Linked DNA regions of Homo sapiens. The protein of the gene in region 1 interacts with the protein of each later gene in a pairwise test. Each region holds a gene or a part of one and is shown on either strand. Other genes may lie near its edges.

Evidence for each region.
Region 2: the proteins of FSD2 (region 1) and ZNF20 interact in binary tests that used the Homo sapiens proteins (3 or more experiments, as listed by UniProt).
Region 3: the proteins of FSD2 (region 1) and DTNB interact in binary tests that used the Homo sapiens proteins (3 or more experiments, as listed by UniProt).

Annotation. Positions count from the first base shown.
Region 1 is NC_000015.10:82,764,334-82,768,086, reverse strand, and holds part of FSD2 (fibronectin type III and SPRY domain-containing protein 2), read left to right. Parts: intron 1-2,055; coding exon 2,056-2,189; intron 2,190-2,788; coding exon 2,789-2,921; intron 2,922-3,753.
Region 2 is NC_000019.10:12,133,666-12,137,418, reverse strand, and holds part of ZNF20 (zinc finger protein 20), read left to right. Parts: intron 1-1,514; coding exon 1,515-1,650; intron 1,651-1,858; coding exon 1,859-1,919; intron 1,920-3,433; coding exon 3,434-3,753. UniProt on the Homo sapiens protein: May be involved in transcriptional regulation.
Region 3 is NC_000002.12:25,666,978-25,670,730, forward strand, and holds part of DTNB (dystrobrevin beta), read right to left. Parts: intron 1-3,753.

The DNA.
Region 1 (3,753 bases):
AAATTGATAAGGGTTGGACTCAGTGACCACAAGGGCTCGCAGAACCTATGAGTTTACAGCAGCCTATGATGGAGGAAGCATAGGTTTACCTCTGGTTTACAGAAGTTTGTGAAAGGGGATGAACCACCCAGGCAGGCCAGCACCAGCCACCAGGACCAGGGGCTCCCCTGCTGTGGAACACAGGGGTGCACTGACCTGGAGCTGGAGAAATGAAGAGGTGTTGGTGTCAATTGTTAGGGAAGCAGATTCTTCTATGCTAAATGCCAGGCTTGAAACGTGGCCATATGCCACCCATCCATCTGTTCCAGGTGGAATCTGTGTGTCCATGGCCACACAGAGGCTGACTTTGGTAATCCACTCTGGAGATACTCAGGAGTGGGGCAGTGTGTCCAGTGGTTCTGGCCATCCTAATGGTTCAGGTTTCCTTTGCAATTTATGCTGATACTTTAGGAGCACTTGACACCTGGGACCAACTCACAATGATGAGGTCATCAGAGGGCTGGTCAGTAACCTGAGAGATGACCTGAGAGCTGGTGCATATTCTTCCAGTACAAATCCAATCATGGCGACCCATTGCTGAAGAAAAGGCAAAACTCCTTCACAGGCTCTGGCCCCTTCCTGCCTCTCCAGCTCCTCCCACACCAGCTCCCCTCCCTCTCAAGATCCCACCACATTGGTCATGTTTCAGTTCCTCCTACTTTTCATGCTCCTTCCTGCCACAGGGCCTTGGCACATGCTTCTCCTATGTAGGAGACTCCTCTGTCCCTTTTTCATCCAGTTACCTCCTCAGCATTCTTCAGAGCTCTGCTCAAAAGCCATCCTGCCCCCACCATTATACACTACAGCACACTATCAACTTGTCTTGGTTACCATCTTACATTCCTTCCAGTGATTGCCTGAAGAATGCTGCTCTTCCCATCTAGACTGTAAGCTCTATGAGGGCAGGAACTACATTTGTTTTTTCTGAGGGCCTCCCTATACAGTGCCTGGAACCTAAGGAGTTTAGTTAACATTTATTGAATGCATAAGTAAAAGTGCCCCTCTGGCCCAGAGCTGCAGCCTGAAGATAACCTGGACAACTTGGCCTCATCTGGGTGAGGGTGTTGTATTGGTAAATGGGCATCATCCTAAAGACTTCTCTTGCCCACTGGACTGACATGGGGTTGGCAACCGCAGCAATATAGACAGTGGCAATTATGAGCTTATATTTCTGTATAGTACAATTTAAATACATTGGATTATTTCCAATAGGCAGCTGTTAGGGGGTTAACAGCAGTTAACACTTTCAGCTCTAGTCAGAATTGTTTGCTCATAAACATAAATCAAGGACCTTTTTTTTTTTTTTTTTGAGACAGTCTCACTCTGTCGCCCAGGAGTGCAGTGGCGTGATGATCTCGGTTCACTGCAACCTCCAACTCCCAGGTTCAAGCAATTCTCCTGCCTCAGCCTCCTGAGTAGCTGGAATTACAGGCACCTGCCACCACACTCGGTTAATTTTTGCATTTTTAGTAGAGACGGGGTTTCACCATGTTGGCTAGGCTGATCTCGAACTCCTGACCTCAAGTGACCCACCCGCCTCAGCCTCCCAAAGTGCTGGAATTACAGGCATGAGCCATTGCACCTGGCTGAATTGACGGCCTTCTATGGGCCCAGTACTGTACTAAGAATAGCGGTACTCAGCCCCTGACCTCAGAGACATTATGATCCTAACAGACGGACAGAGACACACTGGATTCTACTGCATGCACACTCCATGATGCAGTGTTAACCATATGCCAAGCACAGTGCTGGGTGCCTGGGAAACCAGAATGAGGGACTTGGAGAGGAGACAGCCACAAACACAAGAAGTAGCAATGAAGTGAGAAAAGCAGACCAGAGACTGTGGGAGGGAATGCAGAGGGGGAGCCAGCACTCCTGGCTATGCTGCTGTTAAATGTGGGTCAGAGGACAGGAGCGCAAGAGTGAGTTAAACCTTCCAGCTTTGAAAGGGATGCCTGGTGCTTGGGCCTGGGTGTCCTAGCCCCATTCTGACTGCAGCTCTGCTTCCTTGTACAGGTCTGTTGTGGGCATCCCGACCTGCGAGTCCGTGGTGCAGCTGCAGCCGGGGCGGAGCTACATTATCTATGTGCGAGCCCTCAATATGGGGGGCCCCAGCGTGAGGAGCGAGCCAGCTACAGTCCACACCATAGGTCTGTGCCCCAGCCCACAAAGTCTCTGGGACCCAAAGTGGCCACTCTGTGGCAGACCCAGTGCTGCTATGACTTCACTGGGAAATTGATGAATATGCACAGATGTGGACACGTGGCAAGTCAGGCCAGAAGGAGTTCAGGGGTGTCCCATACTGCCCTAATTGCAAGTCAAATGGATCATTAAGAAGTCCTTCAATTCCTATTTCCCTTGGCAAATAGGTTAGAAATTCTTATCCATACACAGGCATTACAGCTAGAGGTAAAGAGCACAGCCTCTGGAATCAGAGGGGCTTGGGGTTCAAGTTTAAGTTCTATCATTTGCCAGCTGATTTCTTAACCACCTTGTGCCTCTGTTTCCTCATCTACAAAATGGAAATAGTGACACCTGTTTCTAAGGGTCGTCGTGAGGATTGAAGGGGATACTAGGCACACAAGACTGCCCGATGAGTGTCAATTGCCATCCTTGTTAACTGGACGCCTATTACTAGGCCAGGTCCAGGCTTAGGTGTATCCCACACGAAGCTAAACCGGTGACCACCGCCCACATGGAGAAAGCAAGTGATTGGCTGCGGGTCTTCTGTGTGTTCCTCCTCCCACAGGAAGCTACTTTCGCCTAAACAAGGACACTTGCCATCCCTGGCTGACCATTTCTGAAGACGGACTTACGGCTGTACGAAGTGAAAGGAGAACCCCCGCCAGGGAGCTGTCACCCAGCGACACTCACTTCACCAGGTACTTTGTCAACCGCTCACAAGGGCGTTCTGTGAACTTCCCGAAGGTGCACTGTTATTCAGGTCAAATCCGAATATGGCACGGAGGCAGCCTCGAGGGAAAAGGAATCCTACAAATGAGTGAGGAGGGAGGAGCCTAATGGGGAGGGGACCCAGAGGAGTGTGGGCAAGAGGGGTCAGGCAGGTGCAGGCAGAAGAGCCCCCTGGGACGGTGAGGTCAGGAGAGGGCGCGGTCCCCTGGGAGGGCATGGTCCCTGGGTCCTAGGCTGCCAGAGCTGGAGCAGCCAGAGGTCATGAGGGTGGGACAGGAATTACTAGTGGAGGGTGTCCAAGTTCTTGGCGTTCTGAACAAAGAATTGGACAAAATGCACAAACAAAGCAAGGAAAGAGGCCAGGCACGGTGGCTCATGCCTGTAATCACAGCACTTTGGGAAGCCGAGGCAGGCAGATCACCTGAGGTCAGGAGTTTGAGACCAGCTTGGTCAACATGCTGAAACCCCATCTCTACTAAAAATATAAAAATTAGCCGGGCCTGTTGCGGGTGCCTGTAATCCCAGCTACTCGGGAGGCTGAGGCAGAAGAATTGCTTGAACCCGCGGGGCGGAGATGGCGCCACTACACTCTAGCCTGGGCAACAGAGTGAGACTCCTTCTCAAAAAAAAAAAAAAAAAAAAGCAAGTAAAGAATGAAGCAACAAGAGCAGAGATTTATTGAAAACGAAAGCACACTCCACAGGGTGGGAGTGGGCCAAGCAAGCGGCTTAAGGGCCGGGTTACAGAATTTTCTGGGGTTTAAATATCCTCTAGAGGTTCCCACTGGTTACTTGGTGTACA
Region 2 (3,753 bases), on another chromosome or scaffold:
GCAGCTGTGTAAGTCACATATGTGGGTTGAGCACATGCAGGAACTGGGAGGAGGTGGATAACTGGAAACTGTTGAGGTCAAGTGCAGCTTTCTTCTTCTTCTTTTTTTTTTTTTTTTCTGAGACAGTCTCTTTCTGTCGCCCAGGCTGGAGTGAAGTGGCGCTCTCTCAGCTCACTGCAACCGCCGCTTCCCGAGTTCAAGCGATTCTCCTGCCTCAGCCTCCCGAGTAGCTGGGATTACAGGCACGCACACACCCGGCTAATTTTTGTGTTTTTTAGTAGAGAGGGAGTTTCACCATGTTGGCCAGACTGGTCTTGAACTCCTCACCTGAAGTGATTGGCCTGCCTTGGCCTCCCAAAGTGCTGGGATTACAGGCATGAGCCACTACACACGGCTTGAGTACGGGTTTCTTCTGTTATAAGAAAGTGAAACCCATAATGAAAATGCATGGTAAGGTAACATAAGAAGTCACGGTAACAGGCAACTCTAGAATTAATTCATATGGAGATGATGGGCTTCAAAGATTGTTTGTTCTCCTGTAGGTAACCATCTGTCCCTGTTCCTTCTGGTAAGTGAGGACCACTTGCATAATTGGCTGGTGATACCTGCTTTGTCGTGGTTTCACTATTTTCAGAATCTGCTGTTTTCCATTAGTCTATCTTTCCATCTGTTAATACCATTTTCTCTTGATTAGTATAGATTTTATTTATTTTATTTTATTTTATTTTTTCGAGACGGAGTTTCACTCTTGTTGCCCAGGCTGGAGTGCAATGGTGCAATCTCAGCTCACCGCAATCTCTGCCTCCCGGGTTCAAGTGATTCTCCTGCCTCAGCCTCCCAAGTAGCTGGGATTACAGGCATGTGCCAACATGCCCAGCTAATTGTGTATTTTTTTTTTTAATAGAGACAGGGTTTCTCCATGTTGGTCAGGCTGGTTTCGAACTCCCGACCTCAGGTGATCCGCCCACCTTGGCCTCCCAAAGTGCTGGGATTATAGGCATGAGCCACTGCGCCTGGCCTATTTATTTTATTATTATTTTTTTGAGATGGAGTATTGCTTTGTCGCCCAGGCCGGAGTGCAGTGACGCGATCTCGGCCCACTGTAACCTCTACCTCCTGGGTTCAAGTAATTCTCCTACCTCAGCCTCCCGAGTAGCTGGGACTACAGGCACCCACCACCACGCCTGGCTGATTTTTATATTTTTAGTAGGGACGGGTTTCTCCATGTTGGCCAGGCTGGTCTCAAACTCCTGACCTCAAGTGATCTGCCTGCCTCAGCCTCCCAAAGTGCTGGGATTACAGGCGTGAGCCACCGCGACTGGCCAAAGACCCTCTCTCTTAACAAAAAAAGGGTTGGTTTGTGGGAGGACGTGAGTATAGACAGAAAGTAAGAGGTGTGATGACCAAGTCATGGGATAAATGTTTGGAGTCCACAGTATCATGAGAACTTCTTAGGAATAAAGTATAGGCCTCCAGGGCTGTTAGTCTTACCTGTCCTCTTTTATATATGTGAGATGTTTCAGGATTCAGTGGCCTTTGAGGATGTGGCTGTCAGCTTCACCCAGGAGGAGTGGGCTTTGCTGGATCCTTCCCAGAAGAATCTCTACAGGGATGTGATGCAGGAAACCTTCAAGAACCTGACCTCTGTAGGTAAGAATGACAATATTACTTCCCAGTGAATTAGAGAACAAATGCTTCTAGCTCATCAATGCTGTTCATTGATTTGGAACATGGACAAAAAATACTTTGATGAATAAATCAGGCATGGCTACCATGTACCATGAATACAGAATCTAATGATTTTTAAATAAATTCATACTAATTCTGGATCTGTGTTTTCTCCGGGTCTGTGTTTTAGGAAAAACATGGAAAGTTCAGAACATTGAAGATGAGTACAAAAATCCCAGGAGAAATCTAAGGTAATTTTCTCTCGCAAGACAAGGCAATGCCTCTAGAAAATCTTAAAATGTGAGAAAATAGGCCGGGTACAGTGGCTCACGCCTGTAATCCCAGCACTTTGGGAGGTCGAGGTGGGTGAATCCCAAGGTCAGGAGTTCGAGACCAGCCCGGCCAATATGGTGAAACCCTGTCTCTACTAAAAATACAAAAAAATTAGCTGGGCGTGGTGGCACATGCCTGTAGTCCCAGCTACTTGGGAGGCTGAGGCAGGAGAATTGCTTGAATCTGGGAGGCAGAGCTTGCAGTGAGCCGAGATCGCACCACTGCACTCCAGCCTGGGTGACAGAGCGAGACTCCGTCTCAAAAAAAAAAAAAAAGTGAGAAAATGTTAAAAAGAAGCAAAAGAAATAAGCCCAGTATCAAATTTATGTATTCATAGAAAGTTTTCCTAAAAACATATGTTTAAATGTAACATACGCTGGGCTGGGCACTGTTGCGCATACCCCCAAATGCCAGTCCTTTGGGGCTTTCAGACCAAAGGATTGCTGGAGGCCAGGAGTTTGAGGCTGCAGTGAGCCATGTTGGTACCACTACACTCCAATTTGGACAACAGGGTGAGTTGAGACCCCAACTCAAAAAAAAAGACGCACATGTTTAGTATTTGTAAAATAGTTTACTTGAAAATAGGATTACAAAGCCCCATAGAAATACTAATTTTAAAAAAATATATATACCCAGACCATCTTGTAGAGCATATAGTCCATTAATATTCAAATGATTCAGACAGAGCAGAAAGCTGACACTTTGCCGGGCAGTGTTAACAATGCAAGTGCAATAGTTGTTAATGATATAAATCATGTTTTTTTCTTCTTTTTTGAGACAAGAGTCTCGCTGTGTCACCCAGGCGGGAGTGGAGTGGTGTGGTTTTAGCTCACTGCAACTGCCACTGCTTGGGTTCGAGGTATTCTCGTGCCTTAGCATCCCAAGTAGTTGGGATTACAAGCGCACGCCGTCACACCTAGCCAATTTTTGTATTTTTAGTAGAGACAGGGTTTCGCCATGTTGGCCAGGCTGATCTCAAACTCCTGGCCTCAAGCCATCTGCCCGCCTCAACCTCCCATGGTGCTGGGATTACAGGCGTGACCCACCATACCCAGCCAATATAGATCACTTTTTTATTTTTTTATTTTTTTTTGAGACAGAGTTTCGCCCTTGTCACCCAGGCTAGAGCACAATGGCGCAATCTCAGCTCACTGCAACCTCTGCCTCTGGGGTTCAGGCGATTCTCCCAACTCAGGCTCCCGAGTAGCTGGGATTACAGGCACCTGCCACCACGCCCAGCTAATTTTTGCATTTTTAGTAGAGACGGGGTTTCACCATGTTGGCCAGGATGGTCTCAAACTCCTGACCTCAGGTGATCTGCCCACCTCAGCCTCCCAAAGTGCTGGGATTACAGGAGTGAGCCACTGTGCCCGGCCCTATAAGTCACTTTTAATCAAACCGTTAATAATGTGCTTCTCATTTTTCACTGAAGTCTTATGAGAGAGAAACTCTGTGAAAGTAAAGAAAGTCATCACTGTGGAGAAAGCTTCAACCAGATTGCAGATGACATGCTGAACAGGAAAACTCTTCCTGGAATAACACCATGTGAAAGCAGTGTGTGTGGAGAAGTTGGCACGGGTCATTCATCTCTTAATACGCATATCAGAGCTGACACTGGACACAAGTCATCTGAGTATCAGGAATATGGAGAGAATCCATATAGAAATAAGGAATGTAAGAAAGCCTTCAGTTATCTTGACTCCTTTCAATCACATGATAAAGCTTGCACTAAAGAGAAACCCTATGATGGTA
Region 3 (3,753 bases), on another chromosome or scaffold:
GACCATACTCTATGAGAGGATCGAAAATAGCCCAATTAACTCAAAGGGCAGGACCCTTGACCCACAATTATCATATCTGATTCTAGACTGAGGCCCAGTAGGTCAGCTGAAGCACCTGAAATATCACCACACAGAGGACAGTGGGCACAGAAGAAAACAAAATTAAAAAAAAAAAAAAGAAAAGAAAACAAAATCAAAAGCACTCACTCTGAAAATGGGTCTGTAATTTGGCTGGGTGTGGTGGCTCACGTCTTTAATCCCAACACTTTGGGAGGCTGTGGCAGGCGAATCACTTGAGGTCAGGAGTTTGAGACCAGCCTGGCCAACATGGTGAAACCCTGTCTCTACTAAAAATACAAAAATTAGCCAGGCGTGGTGGCGGGTGCCTATAATCCCAGCTACTCGGGAGGCTGAGGCAGGAGAATCGCTTGAACCTGGGAGGTAGAGGCAGAGGCTGCAGTGAGCTGAGATCATGCCACTGTATTCCACCCTAGGCGACAGAGCCAGACTCCATCTCAAAAAAAAAAGTCTGTACTTCAAAACACATGAAGAGATACACTGCAAGAAAGACAGCCAACAAAACCAATGACTAAATATTATTCCAGGTGAAGTTTAACTTTACAGAACAGTCTGACATACTTATTATATAAGTACATTTAGGGTACTTGGACATAAATTTTAAAAATTATTGGGAATGCAAATGATACAGTCACTTTGAAAGATAGTTTAATAGTTTCCTACAAAGCTTGATATATTCTTACCATTCGACCCAGCAATCACTCTCCTAGGTATTTTCCCAAGTGAGTTACAAATTTAATGTCTACACAAAAACCTGCACACGGATGTTTATAGCAGTTTTATTCAAAAATTGCCAAAAACTAGAAGCAACCAAGATGTCCTTCAGTAGGTGAACGAATAAACAAACTGTGGTGCTTCCATAAAAAGGAATATTATCATTCGGCGCTAAAAAGAAATGAGCTGGCCGGACGCGGTGGCTCACGCATGTAATCCCAGCACTTTGGGAGGCCAAGGCAGGCGGATCATGAGGTCAGGAGATCGAGACCATCCTGGTTAACATGGTGAAACCCCGTCTCTACTAAAAATACAAAAAATTAGCCAGGCATGGTGGCGGACGCCTGTAGTCCCAGCTACTCGGGAGGCTGAGGCAGGAGAATGGTGTGAATCCGGGAGGCAGAGCTCGCAGTGAGCCGAGATCGCGCCACTGCACTCCAGCCTGGGCCACAGAGTGAGACTCAGTCTCAAAAAATAAAAATAAAAAAAAGAAATGAGCTATCAAGTCGCAAAAAAGACTTAGAGGAAACTTAAATGCATACTGCTAAGCAAAAGAAGCCAATCTGAGTAGGCTCCATACTACATGATTCCAAATCTATGACATTTCCAACTCTGGAAAAGGTAAAACTATAGCCATGTAATGACATTTATTCTGTCTGTACTGTTGAGTATTTTACAAGTGAGCCCCTTGCAGGGTTGTAGCATGCAGTCATGCCATGTAAATGATACATGACATTACGCACTTGTCAAAACCCATAGAACTATACAATACAAAGAGTGAACTCTAAATCATGAACTTTAACAACAATGTATCAATATTAGTTTATCAATTATAATAAATGTAGCATACTAATGCAAGATGTTAATAATAGGAGAAACCATATGGGAAAGAGTGGGTATATGGAAACTCCATACTATTCAGCCACATTGGTCAAAATTGTGTTAATCTATTTTTATTCCATTATGTATATTGTTTTAAAAACTGTATTACTGACAATTGCACTTGAGTACATACACAAAAGAAATGGAAACAGAGACTTAAACAGACATACAGATACCAATGTTCATAGCAGCACTCCTTGTAATGGCCAAAACGGGGAAACAACCCAAATGTCCATCAATGAATGAATAAACAAAATGTGGTATATTCATACCATGGAATATTATTCAGCCTTAAAAAGGAAATTTTCACACATGCTACAATATGAATGAACTTTAAGGACATTATACTAAGTGAAATCAGCCAGATACAAAAGGGCAAATATTGTAATGATTCCATTCATATGAGGTACCTAGAGTAGTCGAATTCATAGAGACAGAAAGTAGAATGGTGGTTGCCAGGCGCTGAGGGAAGAATGGGGAGCTGGTGTTTAAGGGGTACAGAGTTTCAGTTGGGGATGATGAAAAAGCTCTGGAGACAGTGGTGATGGCTGTGCAACAATGTGAATGTATTTCATGCTACAGAACTGTACACTTACAATGGTTAAAATTGTTATTTTTATGTTATGTGTATTTTACTATAATAAAAAAAGTTAGAGTGCTGAAAAACTGGTCATCCAAATTGAAAAAAAAATTGTATCTTTTCATTATACCATACATAGAAATAAATTCCATCTGGAAAGCAAAACTTTTTTAAACTTTTGGAAGAAACTCTAAGAATATATCATTAACACCATGAGAGACAGAAAATTTTCTTAAACCAGATACACACCCAAAAAAAGACAAGCCATTTAAGGGAAATTTTTCATAAATATGACATTAAACTTAAATGGTATATACAACCAAATACATTGTTAACAAAGGGAAAGAAAAGCCTAGGGCTGGCAGGATGCATTTGCAACACACAGACCCACTGAAGAATCAGCATCTAAAGGAACCCAACTGTTCCTCAGTGAGTAAAAGGACACGTGCGCTGTGATGTAAGTCCACAACCGGGCCAGGTGCAGGGGCTCATGCCTGTAATCCCAACGCTTTGGGAGGATCACTTGCCAGCCTGAGCAACATGGCGAGACTGCATCTCTACAAAAAATTTTAAATGGTGGCACGCAAGTGTAGTCCCAGCTACTTGGGAGAATCACTTGAGCCCTGGAGTGCCACTGCACTCCAGTCTGGGCGACAGAGGAAGACCCTATCTCAAAAAAAAAAAAAAGCCTACAACTGAATACACTAAGCAGTTGAAAATAAATGGATTAAATCCACAAGCAGCAACATGGTTATAGCCCCATCAGTTATGAAGTAAAACGCATACCTCTGACCCAGCAACTGTAGTTTTTCATTCACTGCAGCAACGGTCCTTAATGAGAATACTAAATAAACTACGATACATACTACATAAGAGATTGTGTAGTAGTTAAGAAGACTCAGGTTGATTCCTGTGTTCCAACATGAAAAAATCTCAAAATCATTCTGTTAGGGGAAAAAACTGCAGAACAATGTGTATGGTATGATGTCATTAATGCAGAGGAGAAAAAACTCTGCTCTTTTTTTATTCTGTATTACCTATATATACATGAAAATACATAGAGAATAGCCTGGAAAGACCACAAAAACTGATAACTTCTGTTTCTGTGAGTAGGTCAAGGGGGCCTTTATTCTGTCTATACTGTTTTGAGTATCAGATGAGTTTGTGTTCCCTATATATACATGAAAATACATAGAGAATAGTCTGGAAAGACCACAAAAACTGATAACTTGTTTCCGTGAGTAGGTCAAGGGGGCCTTTATTCTGTCTGTACTGTTTGAGTATCTGACAAGTGAGTGTGTGTTCTGAGCCACCTGCAGAGTTGCAGCACACAGTCACACAGAGTGTGCACTACACAACTCCAGCAGCTGCCAGGCACAAGGACTCCAATGTGAATGGTGCTCCCTAAAGCTGGGCAGAATACAATCTACACAACTAGGTGCCACAGCTCTGATGCTCGTGTAATTCGAAATCAATAAAAGGGAGTAGGGAAGATAGAG